Linked DNA regions of Homo sapiens: all the other regions are linked to region 1. The links come from fine-mapping of genetic effects on gene expression. A gene starts in region 1. Each other region holds a variant in brackets. All regions are shown on one strand. Distances are between the middles of the regions.

Region 1 (5,234 bases):
ACCTCCTGTGTTTAAGTGATTCTCCTGTCTCAGCCTCCTGAGTAGCTGGGATTACAGGTGTCCATCACTACGCCAAGCTAATTTTTTTAATTTTTAGTAGAGATGGAGTTTCACCATGTTGGCCAGGCTGGTCCTGAACTCCTGACCTCAGGTGATCCACCTGTCTCAGCCTCCCAAAGTGCTGAAATTACAGGCATGAGCCACTGCACCTGGCCAGGGAGCATTTAAATTGATGCAATTATTTTCTCTTACAAGTAACCCTATAAAACATAATTCCTTGAGCATCCCTAATTTTATGCTTACATCCCCAAAAGCACAATTTCTGAGTCATAGAAAAAGCTTTTCATTCTTATTGCTGAATTGAACTCTAAAAATTTTGTGCTAACTTAACACTCCTACCAGAAGTATATGTTCATGACCACAGAAATAGCTTTTTTAAACTAAGATGTGAAAATATCTTAGAAACAAACTCTAAATAAGGAGAAAAAAGTTGTATATAATTTTCTACTTATGAGGTGAATAATTTCATTTTTTCTTCAAAGGTGTCAGGAAAATGGACGTTTTGGTAGAGTGATAAAAGGGCCAGACCTTCTAATTGCTTAATCTTAATGTTTCTGAATCTGTTTCCCCATCTATAGTGTGAGGAGAATAATTTCCCTCCTAATTAGTGAGGATACAGTGAGATGACGCATGTGAACATGGTTTGACAATTATAATGTCATATGGATGGAAGATACAACTTTTATTAATCATTGTTGATATGTGGACAGATTTGATACTCATTATACTGTTTTTAAGTGTCTATAACTTTAACTATTTTATACCAATCTTAATATTAATAATTTTCTCCATTTTCAACCTTGTATGATCAGCAAAGTAAATTTTCAGTCAATTCTATTTGGTTTTTGTTTGAAAAAGTAAAATAATGATTATGCAACATAGAAAATTATAGTTCAGTTGCCAATTCCATTAACTTAGTTTGTCTCAGAAACGGAAAAATTACCATAGACACAGAATTAACTATTAAGAATTAATATTTAATCTAAAAATGTCTAGTGTTTCTACAGAAAATTTGAGTACATTCTCAACTTCCTTAAACCAGTGCCTTTTTCAAATTTCTTTTCAAAGTTACACCTGTCAATTTTCATAAAAAATAGTTTGAAGATTATTCTGAATAATTATAACCAATGAAACACAAAGACAAGAAAAGAACTATTGCAGTGGGCCCTTGCTGAACCTGAGCTAGCACCTATAATGAGTGAGTCTTCACCGAAAGAAGAATAAGGAGGGAGCAAGGACTAGAAGGACAGAAAAGAGGCAATGATAACTTAAGAGAACACTGAATTTTTAAAAATTTTAAAAAGGTAGTGGCTAGCAGAGAACCTGAGACTTGTACCCATGAGAACTTTAGCCCAGTCTATCTATCACGATAGCCCCAAGAATTCTGGTCATTGTACTTGGGTAAGGGCTTCAATTTTTTAAGGCACTTGCATTTTATGAAATGTTAGTGTTTGCAGGTGTCTTGGCTAAATAATTTAGGGAATACATTTTAGGAGGAAGTAGGGGCACAGAGGGGGAGAGAGAAACCAGGCAGGAAAGAAGAAAAAAAGAAGAAAATAAATCTTTCTGTTCCCATTATTTTACTGCCCATAGAATTATAAAAGGTAAACACACACACACACACACACACACACACACACACACACACACACACACACACACCTTATAGGGTCATTTAGAACCATCTTTCTTCATTTTAAAACTAAAGAAACAGGTCTAGGTGACACAGATGAAGCAGTGGCAGAGCCAGGAAAATAATCTGACCCTTGTCCCTGCTCTTTCCACCGCACCATGGTGACTCTCTTTTTTGTGTCTTTTTTTTTTTCACTCTAAAACTGATGATCATTTGTAGTCAAAGAGATCAATGCTATTCTCAAAACAAGTTCTGATCTCTCATAATTTTCTTGGTAACTCAGAATCAATGTTAAGTACGTTGAAATAAAAATACAGTACTTTACACGGTAATTTGGTAGACTGTGCACCACGGTCCCATCCATTTTCTTACTTGATCCTCACAAAAACCCTTTGAGGCAAGGCAAGGAAGGTATTATCATCTACATTTTTAAAGTGAGCAAATTAAAACCCAAAGTAAGGTCACTTAGGGTCAGGACGGAGCAAGTACTCTATTCCTATATTTGGAATATAGGAGGGAATACACTTCCAAAGAGGCAATTCCCTCAAAAAGCACCAATCTTGCTCTTTACTCTCTTACCAAGGCATTCTCCATGCCCTGGAGATGCCCGCACTAGGTTAGTGAAGCTTGGATCTTGACATCCACATAGGTTACTCCTAGTTTGCACCTAGTTGTCAACTTAAAAAGCGCAGTTTCTTACCCCTTCCCTTGGTCCTGATCCTTATTTAGGCTCCTATTTTTCTCTTTGGGATTTGGCCTCCTGGGTCTCACTCCAAAGCTCCACCCTCTCCAAACAAGAAGTCGCGTCCTTGGTATCCAAGGTGACCATGCAGCTTTACCCTCGTTGCCCCCTTCCGTGCTTCCCATTGGCCAGTGGCCTCCCATGTACCGCCCCTCCAATAGCCAATGGTCTTGAAACAAAGGGCGCCCGCCTTTCCAGCGATTCTAACACCTGCCCTCTTACCCGTGCTCCCCTGCGCATTGCCTCCTGGGATATGTGGTTTCTAAGAGGCGGAGCTCTGCGACTTTCCACCGCTTTAGAACTACGTATCCCGTCGGCCTTAGCGAAAGGGGGTGGACTTAGGCAAGGGGTCCAGGTCAGAGTTCAGAGCTTTCAAATCCCAACTTGCCCCTGGGGATTACGCAGCTGATGTTTACATCGCCTAGTCAAGCCAACCGGCTCGCTCTTGTTTCAGCAAACCCTGACTTACGTCTCCTATTTGACTTGAGGCGGCACAGTGGCCAAGTCGATTGGCCGTGGCAAGTGACCCTCCCTGTGGCTGAAGTGTTCTGAGGACTGGCGAGAGAGGCGCGCCATGCTTGCCCCCTGTTCAGGTTGGGAGCTTGGCTGCTTCCGTCTCTGTCTCCGTCAGGTCCGACTGTGGGCTGGCGCTGGGCGCTGGTCTTGCTGGGCTTGCCAAGCCAGGCCGTACAGCTCAGGTAGGGGCGAGCGCTGGCCCGGATCGGAGACTGAGGTCCCTCCGCCTGGCCCGGCGCGCCGAACTCTGAAGGAGTGGACACTGCAGGTGAGCCCGTTCGGTCGGCTGCGGGCGCGGCTCCCGTGCCACCTGGCCGTGAGGCCCCTGGACCCCCTCACCTACCCGGATGGCGACCGCGTGCTGGTCGCGGTGTGCGGCGTGGAGGGCGGCGTGCGGGGCCTGGACGGCCTGCAGGTGAAGTACGACGAGGATCTGGAGGAGATGGCCATTGTGTCTGATACTATCCACCCCCAGGCGTCCGTGGAGGTGAACGCGCCCCTGAAGTTTGGCAAGTGAAGTGAAGTGAAAACGGGTTTGGGTCCCAGGGAACGCACAGTGAACTTAATAAATTTGGTCGACGTGCACTTTTAATTGGTCCTGGCTTTCTAAACCTAATTTACAGTTGGCCCCTTCGGAAATGCAACTTTTCCTCTGTTCTATTCTTGAGTATCCGAGTAGTATTTAAAAAATTAGGTTCCCAATTATAGAAATTTTATACATCGAATGGAAACACGATTTGGTATAATCCAGGTCAAATTCTATTTCTGGAGCCGCTTGTGTTCTTCTTTATCCCGTTGTCATTAGCAAACTGGCTTATTTTTCAAGGTTGAAGTTTCTTGACAATTCATTCAATGGTATGGCAGTCCATCTACATTTCCCCTTGCTCACAGCCTGGGGGTGTGTCCCAAAACAGCCCTGTCAATAGGATGTTCCAGGTACCACCTGGTTTGAGTATTTGGTTTTAGACGGGCGCCCAGCTTCTTACTGTTATGTTTCCATTCTTTTTGGCCTAAGTTTTCCATGAGTAGCAAGCTTTGAAGAAAAACACATGGTAAGCCTGCCTAGGAAGCTTCAATAATAATGCCTGCAAGATACCTTTCTTAGGTTTTCCTAAATGGCAAGCCACTGTGTACACACACTTTTCTAGGAAGGGCTCCCCAGACTGTCATTCTTCCTGGGACTGAAGGAAGATATTGATGATGATGATGATGGTAATAATAATAGCATTTAGCATTTTTAAGATCATCTTTTATAATGCTTACAGTTGCCCAAATAGTAGATGCCGTAGTCCTCCCTTATCCACCGTTTGGCTGTCTGAGTTTGTTACCTGCCTCAACTGTTGTAGGAAAATATTAAGATATTTTGACAGATCACAGTAATATAACTTTTATTACAGTATATTGTTATAATTGCTGTATTTATTATTATTGTTGTTCATCTCTTACTATGCCTAGTTTATAAATTAAACTTGATCATTGATATGTATACAGGAAAAAACATAGAATATATAGGATTTGGTACTATTTGTGGTTTCAGGAATCAAGTCGGGGGGGCGGGTCTTGCCTACTTTAAGAGAAATCATCAATATTTATGTTAATTCCAAATTAAATATCAGCGTTTTTAATTTTTAAAATTTGTATACAGCGATGCCTGCAGTTACATCTTAAATAGACAGCCAAGGATGGCATTTGTAATTCCTTATTTTCCAAACTTGCTTCATGTACCACTGCCATTTGTCCACAATCTTGTGGGGTTTTTTGTTTGTTTGTTTTGGTTTTTTTTGAGACTGCATCTCACTCACTCTGCCATGCAGGCTGGAGTACAGGTGCACAATCATGGCCCACTGCAGTCTTGACTTCACGGTTTTAAGCAATCTTCTCGCCTCCGCCTCCTGAGTAGCTGGGACTACAGGTGCATGCTACCATGCCTGGCTAATGTTTTTGTTTTTTTGTAGAAAGGGAGTTTTGCCACATTGTCCAGGCTGGTCTTGAACTCCTGGGCTTCAAGCAATCCTCCTTCCTCGGCCTCCCAAAGTGCTGGTATTACAGGCATGAGCCACGGCTCATGGCCTAATCTTGTAGTTTTAATAGTATATATTAGGTTTTTCAAAGTTGTTCCCATTTTTAAAAAATTACTTCAAATACCTTGTGATATAGTTGCATGGTAATATTTTCATTTTTTAAGTATGAAAGGTTAGACATAGGATTTGAAAACCTAAGTCATGATCATATATACTGGGGAAGAGGCTTCTACAGTCTTTCACAGGAGTACTTAACAGAATC
Region 2 (5,234 bases), 190 kb after region 1:
TTCGTATCACGTTAGAGTTATTACAGACATCTTGAAATATCAGTCTAGACATCAGTACTTCAAAATTATGGTCGTTATTAGAACCACTACCAGATGTTGTCAATTAATGGATAACGAAGTATGTGTATTACTATTAGCTACAAATTTGTTTTATAATTTTAAAAATGTTCTGATAAAATAATTTACTACATTTGTAGTTTATTGATTTTATTTTGTACATTTAAAAATACTAATCTGTGAAGGGGTTCATAGGCTTCTACAGACTGCCAAAGAAGTCCATGGCACAAAAAGTTATGAACCCTTTATCAATGACTATTCCAAAGAATGTTGATTTTGTTCCTGGGGATGTCAGAGACTGATTTCTCCAGTGACTATAAAGTATCATTTTACAGTCACATTCATTTATCATCACATTCATTTATCAAATAATTTGATAAATACTTGGTGAGTTTCCACTGCAAGTTAGATACTGAACTGTGTCCTTGGGATACATCAGTGAACCAAACAAAAATCTCAACCTTTGTGGAGTTTACATACTGGCGGGGAAGGCAGATGATAACACAAAAGATACATAGATTATGTAATAGGTCCAAAGCTAGAAAGGAAAGGTGCCAGGAAGGCTTTTGTTGCCATTTTAAAGGTGGGGTGCCAGGAAGGATTTTGCTGCCATTTTAAATTGAGTGGTCAGAGCAGGTCTCATGTACAGACTTGCCTATATAGGTGAGCAAGCCCGGAAGTCTCCAGATGGAATTTCCCAGGCAAAGGAAACAACTCAAAGCTCAGAGGAGGGATCATGTTTACTATGTTCAAGAAATAGCCAGAAAGACTGCGTGGCTGGAGCAGAGTAGGATGAGGAAGAAAAGAAGAAGGGAAGATCAGAGAACTAATGGAGGGAGGAGGAGAGTACACAGAGGTCTTTAAAGGCCATATAAGAACTTGGACTTTTACCCTGAGGTAGGCGAAGAATTTAGACACTTGCATTTCTTTTTGGGAAAGAAATGCCGTGATCTGACTTATGTTTCAAAAGGATCACTTATGTTTCTTTGTGGGCAATAGAATGGAAGGAGGCAAGGGTGGGAATAGGAAAACAGTTATAAGACGATTGCTAAAATGTAGCAAGTCTGACGAAAGTGATAGCCATGGAGGCGGTGAGGAGTAATTGGTCTCTGAATTATGTTTAGGGTAAACACAGGAAGACTTCCTGGTGAATCGGATGTGCAGTGGGGGGAGTAATAAAGAGAGGAAACAAGGGTGACTCAAAGATTTTTGACCTAAGCACTAGAGGGGTGAATTTTTCATCTACTGAGATGGAAAGCTTTGAGCAGCTCAGATATTTGGGAGAAGATCAGGAGTCACTCTTGAAAAGTTTGAATGATCTAAATGAGAGACTTTGAATATAGTTTTGGAGTCTGAGGCAAAGGAGCATCCAGGGCTGGAGATGTAAATTTGGCAACAAAGGGCATACAGAGGGAGACTGGATGAGATCCCCAAAGGAAGGAGAGTGGATAAAAAAAGAAACTACAATCTGGGGCAAGTCAGTCCAGGACTAAGAGGTATAAGCAAAGATAAATCATTCACAAAGTTCTGAGACTAGCAACCAGTGAATTAGAAAGCCTTACAAGCCAAAAAAAAAAAAAAAAAAAAAAAGTATCAAGGAGTGGTGTCATCTCTGTCAAGGGGCGTAAAATGTGAGAGGACCAAATGTGAGCCATGAGATTTAGCAACCTGAAGTTTATCTGAGACCTCAGTAAGAGCAATTTTGTTGAGAGTTAAGACCTGATTTCAGTGGGTCTGTGAGAGAATGAGAGGAGAGGAACTGGATAGAATTAATACAGACCCCCTTTCTAAATGTTTTTCTGCAAAGGCAAAGAGAAATGGAGTCATACCTGGTAGGGAGAGAGGGTCCAGTAAAAGGTTTTATTTCTGTTTTTTCTTGTTTTTGTTGGCTTAGTTTTTTTGCTTTTTAAGATAAATGAGTAACAATCTTTTGTGCTGAGGAGGATGACTCAAAAAGTGGAAAGAGTTGACAAGGTAAGAGATGGGAGAAGACATGCAGGGATGCCCTTGAGTGGGCCGCAGGGCTTGGAATCTGGTGCACATGTGAAGAGATTGGCTCTAGAAAGACCACAGACAATTCACCTTTCAAAACAGCAAGAAAAGCACAGTGAGTACACGTGCTTGTGGGAGGGTGAGCAGGTGCAGTAGTGAGAGACTGGGGAAATTCTCTTTTAATTGTTTCACCTCTGTCAGTGAAGGAGAAAAAAAGATTGTGCATTGAGAATGAACATGAGGGAGCAGGTGCTGGAGATTTAAAAGGGAGGTGAGAAAGGACAGTTGATTGGGAAAGAGATAGAATAGTGGCTCTCAAAGGCAGTCTCCAGATCAGCAGCATTGGTATCACCTGAAGACTTGTTAGTAATGCAAAAATCTCAGGCCTTACTTCCAGCTTGATGAATCAGGAACTCTGAGGTAGGCGCAGCAGTCTGTGTCTTAGCAAGCCTTGCAGGGATTCTGATGCACGCTGAAGTTTGAGTGTCACTGGAATGGATGGTGTCTATATGATTGCTGGGTCACTCCGCCTATCCTGAATGTCAAGAACATGCCAAGTGAGACCAGCCAGTATATTGTAGCTCTTTCTCCAGCCACAACCAGGTATTTCTTATGGGATGGGCAGAGAGTTGGATGTACAGGTTTTGATCATTGGTTTATAAGAGATAAATGGATCTGAACAATTACAATAATAGAGAATGTGATGGACTGAGTTGTGCTCCCCCCAACTCATATGTTAAAGTGATAACCCTCAATACTATAGAACGTGACTGCATTTGGATGTAGGACCTTTATGGAAGCAATTAAGGTTAAATGAGGTCATTAAAGTGGGCCCTAATCCAATAGGACTGGTGTCCTTGTAAGAAGAGATTAGGAAG[C/T]AGACAGGTACAGAGGGAAGATCATATGAAGACAAAGGAAAAAAACAAGCCAGATAGAGAAGTCTCAGAAGACGCCACCTTGATCTTGGACTTCTAGCCTCTAAAAATGTGAGAAAATAAATTTCTGTTGAATAAGCCACCCAATCGGTGGTACTTTGTTAAGGCAGCCCCAGTGAATGAATACAAACATACCAGAAAAAGGTTAAAAGGTCTGACTTCACTGGGTAGATTAGTACCTTGGCCAGCCACATGCTCTAAGTCCCTCTGTGCCCTTCTGTGAAGGGGGATGATGATAATGATAGCATCTACTCAAGAGCTGATATGGTTAGGGTTTGTGTCAACACCCACATCTCCTCTTGAATTGTAATCCCCAGATGTTTAGAGAGAGACCTGGTGGGAAGTGATTGGGTTATAGATATGGTTTCCCCATGTGTTCTTGTGATAGTGAGCAAATTCTCATGAGATCTGATAGTTTTATAAATGGTAGTTTTTCCTGCACTGACATACACGCTGTCTCTTTTCTTCCACCATGGGAAGAAAGTCTTTGCTTCCTCTTCGCCTTCCGCCATGATTGTAAGTTTCCTGAAGCCTCTCCAGCTGTGCAAAACTGTGAGTCAATTAAACCTCTTTCCTTTATAAATTACCCGGTTTTGGGCAGTTCTTTACAGCAGTGCGAAAACGGACTCATACAGGAGTTATTGTGGAGATTCAGTGAGGCAATGCATGGAAAGCCTCAGCTCAGTCCTGACCCATGATAGGGCCTCAAAAATGTCGGCATGAAAATGGCCACTACCTCAAAAGAGCATATGTGCTTGGTCAGGATGGCTCTCCCTTGTGAATCCACATTTAGAGCCGAAATTGCCAAGTCCCTGGGGGAATTGAGCTCTGCAGCTGGCAATTTGAGGCATGTGTTCCTGAGCCCCATGGCAGTGACCTTTTATCCTTCTTGGGAATTGATTTCTGAAGCAGCCCTAAAGGCCACAAAGCAGGGTTGGGACTCCTGGATTGATTTTCTATGTTGACATAGCAGGCCAAGCCCTGTCTGGTTTATAAACTGATGTTGTATTATTTCTAAGTCTCTTATAAAACTGAGCCAGGAAAATCATTCTTACAGAATTATTGAGTTTTCTCTTGTGTAGTTTGGGGAGCTGTGGAGGCAGGGGATGAGGGGTAGGGAGGAGACTAAGCAATTTCTTTTCTCCTCCCAATTTTGTATTTAGCCATTTCAAAGTGTCATCACACTGAGAAAATACTTGTTAATTGGCAATATGATAGTTTCTTATATAAGACCCAATCTAGGCTAGGGATGCTATTTACTGTGATTATCACTTCCAAGTGTGGTGCTTTGTTGTATATTTCCTCCACAAGCAGTTATTTGTTGGTAATGGATTTCTGTAAGCCAAATTATATCCTCCCTTTAAGGATCATTTTGACTGTGTATCTACAACACCCTTTTCAGAAAGGGCTAATTATTATTGACAGGGATGATAGAGAGACAAATTCTTCCTGTTCTGGGCAATTGAATAACCTCTTGTCCCAGTTTACTTCGTGCAGATTTGTCATTGAACTAGCATCCTTGAATTGTGTTTAAACTACAATAAAAATAAATGTGGGAAGTCTCAGTTTATGTAAAGGGCAGTACTCCCACAATCTCAAAGCTTTTTCAAAATTCTGCAAGTGTGCTGTTTGTGGATTCCACAGACTTTGTTCATAGAGTCACTCTGTATAAAGTAACCATCTGCAAGTGCCTTTTGTCCCATTAAATCAGAGAAACAAACTGGTGGTTTATAGTTGAATCAGTTCTACATACTTAAGAGCTTGGTCTATTTACTAGAGTTTTAGTGTTTTTCATTAGTGACCTTGATTTAATAAGGATCTCAACCTAATGTCTTTATGTTTGTTCAAAATTTTTTCTAAGACAATATTGGACTTTAAATTTTATTTATGATGTTTTCTGTGCTGAGTGCTATGTTTCATGTTCACAAATCTACTCATATTTTTATATATAAAGTGAAAATTTACATTGTTTTACCCTGTCTTTCCAAAAGCTAATAGTTATTCCTATATCCTTCTATTTGTCACTGATTTGAAAGGTCTCTTTTGTTATGTGGTACTTTCTTACATATGCTAAGTAATCTATATCAGATATCTGTTTAGTTCCATGATTTGTAGGTCTGTTCTCTTATCAATACCATTCTAATTGAATGATTGGAATCTTATAGTGTATTTTCATGTATGTCAAGGATAGTCCTCATCTATTACTCTTTGTTATCAAAATATTTAATTGTTTTCTGAATGGTTTATTAT
Region 3 (5,234 bases), 23 kb after region 1:
ACAGTAGAACTCAAACATTCAAGAAGAATGTTATCTGAGACTCTATAGGTCCCACTATAATTAACTAATCCTCATTTTGTATAGATCTAAAACTTCTATTTTTCTGGTTCAAAGAATCATTGTTTTCTCAAGACCTCCTCACTTTCATGACAAGCACTAATGATTGGCTTTTTGAGAAAGACCATATTTTTATTTTAAAAAAATTGTAAATTTTTACTGCATTATTAAAGACTAGTGTAAAACTATAAAGCTCCATTGCCTTGATGAGTGGGTGACTGGATTCACTAGCTAAATGACTGTAAAACTTTATCATAGTTCTTTATTAATAAAGTTACGAATATCAGGGACCTGTCTATCTTTTATTGTTCAGGAGGTAGAGCAGTGTCTTAGTCTGTTTTCTGTTGCTACAACAGAATACCTGAGATTGAGTGATTTATAAAGCTTATATATTACAGTTCTGGAGGCTGAGAAGTCTGAGGTCTAGGAGCCGCATCTGGTGAGAGCCTTCTTGCGGATAGGGGCTCTGCAGAGTCATGAAGTGGCACAGGCCTCACATGGAGAGAGGCTGCATGAGAGACACCCACACTGGCTCTTATAACAGACTCACTCTTGTAATAGCTAACCCACTCCCTCTATGACCCATTAATCCATTGATTCATGAATGGGTTAATCCATTCATGAGGGTAGAGCCCTCATGACCCAATTACCTCCCAAAGGTCCCACCTCACAGTATTGCTGCACTGGGGACTAAGTTTCCAACACATGAACTTTTGTGGGAACGTTCAAACCACAACAAGCAGTAAAGAGAATGCTGAGAATGGAAACACCCACTGTCTCACACTAGGTGAATCTCCTTAAAGCATGGTTTTCTTGTATTTTTATCCATCTTGAAATTCTTCACTAACTTTTTTGGTGTAGGATAGTCAGTAGACTTAGCACTCTGTGGTTCTACCACAGGTTGCTCTTTACCTACTTTTCCAAACTTTTTATTTGTTCACAAAATAATTGTGTTTACTATGTACTATGCACTGTGCAAAGTTCCCAGGTATGAAGCTAAATAAGAAAGATGTGATTCCTGTCCTCCTAGACTTGCCTCATTGGGATCTAATTAAATGAAAGAGCTTCTGCACTGCAAAAGAAATTATGAACAGAGTAAATAGACAACCTACAGAATGGGAGAAAATATTTGCAAACTCTGTATCTGACAAAGGTTTAATATCCTTTGTTCCTTTGAATCTTCAAGGAAGTTAAACAAATCAATAAGCAAAAAACTAATAACCCTATTAAAAATGAGCAAAAGACAGGACATTTTGCTCATTTCTCAAGAGAAGACGTACAAGAAACCAACAAACATGAAAAACTGCTCCAAATCACTAGTCATCAGAGAAATGCAAATCAAAACCACAATGAGATATCATCTCACACCAGTCAGAATGGCTATTATTAAAAATAAGTAAAAAAACAGCAGACGCTGGCGAGGCTGTGGAGAAAGGGGAACACTCATACACTGTTGGTGGGAATGTAAATTAGTTCAGCCACTGTGGAAAGCAGTTTGAAGATTTCTCAAAGAACTTAAAACAGAACCACCATTCAACCCAGCAATTCCATTACTGGATATATACACAAAAGAAAATAAATCATTCTTCCAAAAAGACACATGCACTCAACATATTCACTGAAGCTCTATTCACAATAGCAAAGACATGGAATCAACCTATGTGCCCATCAGTGGTGGACTGGATAAAGAGAATGTGGTACATATACACCATGGAATACTATGCGGCCATAAAGAAGAATGAAATTATATCCTTTGCAGCAGCATGGATGCGGTTGGAAGCCATTATCCTAAGCGAATTAACACAGGAATAGAAAATCAAATACCACATGTTCTTACCTATAAGTGGGGGGTAAACATTGGATAATTATGGACATAAAGATGGCAACAATAGAAACTGGAGTCTACTAGATGGGGGATGGAGGGACGGGGCAAGGGTTGAAAAACTATTGGGTACTATGCTTAGTACCTGGGTGATGGGATCATTTGTACCCCAGACTTCAACATCACACAATATACCCAGGTAACAAACCTGCACATGTATCCCCTGAATCTAAAATATGAAAAAAAAAATTAGTAATCTTATAAGCTTCAGTACACAAACCAAGTTTTTATTCATACACAAATATACTCCTTGTTCATATACTCACAGGAAATATGATGGTATATTAGACCTTCAGATGGATTTTTGCAATTAGGCGCATCTGGCTATTGAGTAAATGAATCCAGTGCCTTTTTTTGGTTTTTCCCAGATACTGATACAAGTCAGTATTCATAAGGTATATGAAATGAGATAAAATGAGTTTACTGAAGATTAATTCTGAGG[C/T]CAAAGTTATTCCTTTACTTTTTAGTGTAGTTTTGGAATTATTTTAGAAGAGATAACATTATTGCTTATATTTTCAGTAGAATAAATATGAGTTCCTGATTCTAGGAATACTTACACGTACAAACACACATATGAAGAATAATCCTACTACTTTTGGTATTAGGGGAAAGGGGCTGGGAAGAATGGTTGCAATATTCCATACTTATCATGGAAAACATATTTTCACTAAGACGGAAATCTTTGAAGCTTCTTTGTTCTGTTTTGCTAGTCATACCTCCATGTATTCATTATTCCTATCTCAAACCACTTTAATTCTTGGCCCAGAAACTACTTTTAATTTAATAGACATGGCAAGTGGCCTGAAAAATAAAAGTAATTCTTTTTTTCCATACCATATTTTAGTGTTACTTGGTTGAAAACTTCGCTTTGTGTGGTCTGATAAATACATTGATATTTAGGTTGAAAATGTACAGTGACTACATTTCAGTAATTTTTTTCACTTACAGGTTTTAGAAGTATTGTTTTTCCTCTGTGCCAGCAGTTATGGTGATTTGTAGTTATGCTATAAAAGCTTAAGGTTTGGTAGTAGAGAAAGAAGGTTTGCAGAGATACCTAAGCCAGTTATTTCAGAACTACAGCTCAATCTTTGACTGGACTTGTGATATTGGGAAAAATTGCCAACAAAAATAACATTGTAGATATTCATCCATGTTTTAGCATTGCTATGTATCACAGTTCCTTTCTAGATTGTCTCTAGTACATAAAAGTATCTTTTTCTTTTTGGCAGGTAATATAACATTACAAAGCGAGATGGGTAACATCACAGTAGGTACGTACTAAGCTACTAGTTCGTGTATTTTGTCCACTTTTAAAAATGGGTATATTTGTGATGACTTTATTAGAATAAATGAATTCTACAGTTTAACTGATGAACTTGACAGGATCACAAGTCAAATATAGGCAGAACCAATGTACTAATTATGTCCACTCGAAGAAAATTGCCTGAGCTGGTATTAAGAAATGTCTTATATTTCTTGCTAAACTTCTCTGAAGAAAAAAAAAAGAAAGAAAAAAAGATCTTACAAATTTCTTGAATTCTTCAAATATCTAAATTAAGTCCTTGAAAGAAAGATATAAATAATGTCACTGTTTATTGGGCTCCAAATGTGTTAACATTTGAAGACAACCTTGTGAATACCAATAACTAGTTAGTCAACATGTATTTATTGAGTACCTGCCATGTATTAAGAATTCTTTTAGGTACTAGGGAACATATTGGTCAACAGGACATAGTTTCTGTGCTCAGAGACTTCACCTTCTCTGAGCCCTGGGAAGAAAGACAACAAGCATATAAATAACAAAAGGTAATTTTAGTTTGTGGTAAGTACAATGAAGAAATAAGAAAGGGTAACTGAATAGAGATTGGGGAAAAAGAAAGCTACTTCAGTTAGGCAATTGGGGGTGGTCTGGAGAGGGTACATTTAAACCAAAGCCAGAAAAATGAGAAAGAGTTATATAAAATTCTGGATACAGGCTCCCTAGATAGAGGAACAGCAAGTGCAGGCCTTGAAAATGGAAGTTTACTATTTTCAAGGGAAAGAAGGCTGGCTTATGAGGAAAGTGGTAGGATATGAGGTAAGTAAGGCTAGATCTTAGGACCTTGTAGACAGGGTAAGAGTTCAGACTTTATTCCAACTACAACAGGATGTTAGGGAAGTGATATATAATTTATATTTTAAAAGAACAATCTAGCTGTTATTTCATAATGTACCAGAAGGGTTCAGAAGTGAAAGCAGGCTATTAGAAGGCTTAATTTGTTCATTCTACTGTTGATGGACACCTGGGCTATTTCTAATTTTTTGGCAACTGTAAATAAAGCTGCTATGAATATATTAATGTAAGTCATTTTATGGATGTATATATATTTTTCCTCTTGGGTAAATACTTAGGTATGGCATTGCTGAGTTGACTAGGTAGGTTCTATGTTTAACTTTATGATAAACTACCAGACCTTTTCCCAGAGTTCCACTTTATACTCTCATCAACAATGTATGAGAATTTCAGTTGCTCCACATCCTCATCAACATTTATTATTGTCAGTTTTAAAATTTTTTTATATCATCATTTGTTGAAAAAACTTCCTTTCTCTGATGGATTACTTTAGCATCCTTGTCTAAAATCAAATGACTATATAAGTGTGGCTCAATGTCTGATCTCTTGTTCCTAATTCATTGATTTATTTGGTGAGCCTTATGCCAGTGCCACAATATCATGATTACTGTAACTTTGGTAAGTCTGTAAATCAGGTAGTTGAAGTCTTCCAAATTTGTTCCTTTTAAGGATTACTTTGGATATAATAGGTCCTTTGATTTTCCAGTCAGTTTCTACCAAAAAATACAGTTTTGATTATGTTTGGGATTGCACTGAATCACATTGTATCTTCCAATTAATGAACATGGTAGGTAGCTCTCTCCATTTATTTAGGTCTTCTTTAATTTTTCTCAGCATTGCTTTGTAAGTTTCAATGTAGAGGTCTGGCACATTTTTTTGTTAAATTCATTTGTGTTTTTAACACTGTTATAAATGAGACAGTTTTTAAGACTTTGCTTCTAATTGTCTACTGCTGATATATGTAAATACAAATGATTTTTATAAATGGACCTTGTATCTTGTGACCTTGCTAAATTTATTCTAATAGCGGTTTTCTCAAATCTAGAATCCTTTTCTAGCTGAGCAGACATTTTCAACTGCAAATAGAGTTTTACCTCTTTCCCTCCTATCTTTATTACTTTTCTTTTTCTTGCCTTATCAGACTAGCTATGAACTTCAGTATAATGTTGAATGTAGTGATGA

The links. PIP is the estimated chance that this variant, and not a neighbour inherited with it, causes the effect. A credible set is the group of variants that fine-mapping cannot tell apart.
Region 2: its variant is the best candidate, but not a certain one, in a credible set for the expression of CCDC146 in tibial nerve (GTEx, PIP 0.72).
Region 3: its variant is the best candidate, but not a certain one, in a credible set for the expression of CCDC146 in whole blood (INTERVAL, PIP 0.64).

Annotation. Positions count from the first base shown.
Region 1 is chr7:77,119,892-77,125,125 of GRCh38, reverse strand. CCDC146 (coiled-coil domain containing 146) reads right to left here and starts at 2,511. Exons shown (of 19, transcript NM_020879.3): 1 at 2,394-2,511. It also overlaps the pseudogene FAM185BP. RefSeq lists a silencer at 2,726-2,825 and enhancers at 2,721-3,220, 3,221-3,722.
Region 2 is chr7:76,933,482-76,938,715 of GRCh38, reverse strand. No RefSeq gene overlaps it. Among named protein-coding and RNA genes, the nearest start is that of SPDYE17, 96 kb to the left of the region's middle. The variant C/T (reference allele first, on the strand shown) is at 2,928.
Region 3 is chr7:77,096,886-77,102,119 of GRCh38, reverse strand. It overlaps the pseudogene FAM185BP. Among named protein-coding and RNA genes, the nearest start is that of CCDC146, 23 kb to the left of the region's middle. The variant C/T (reference allele first, on the strand shown) is at 2,382.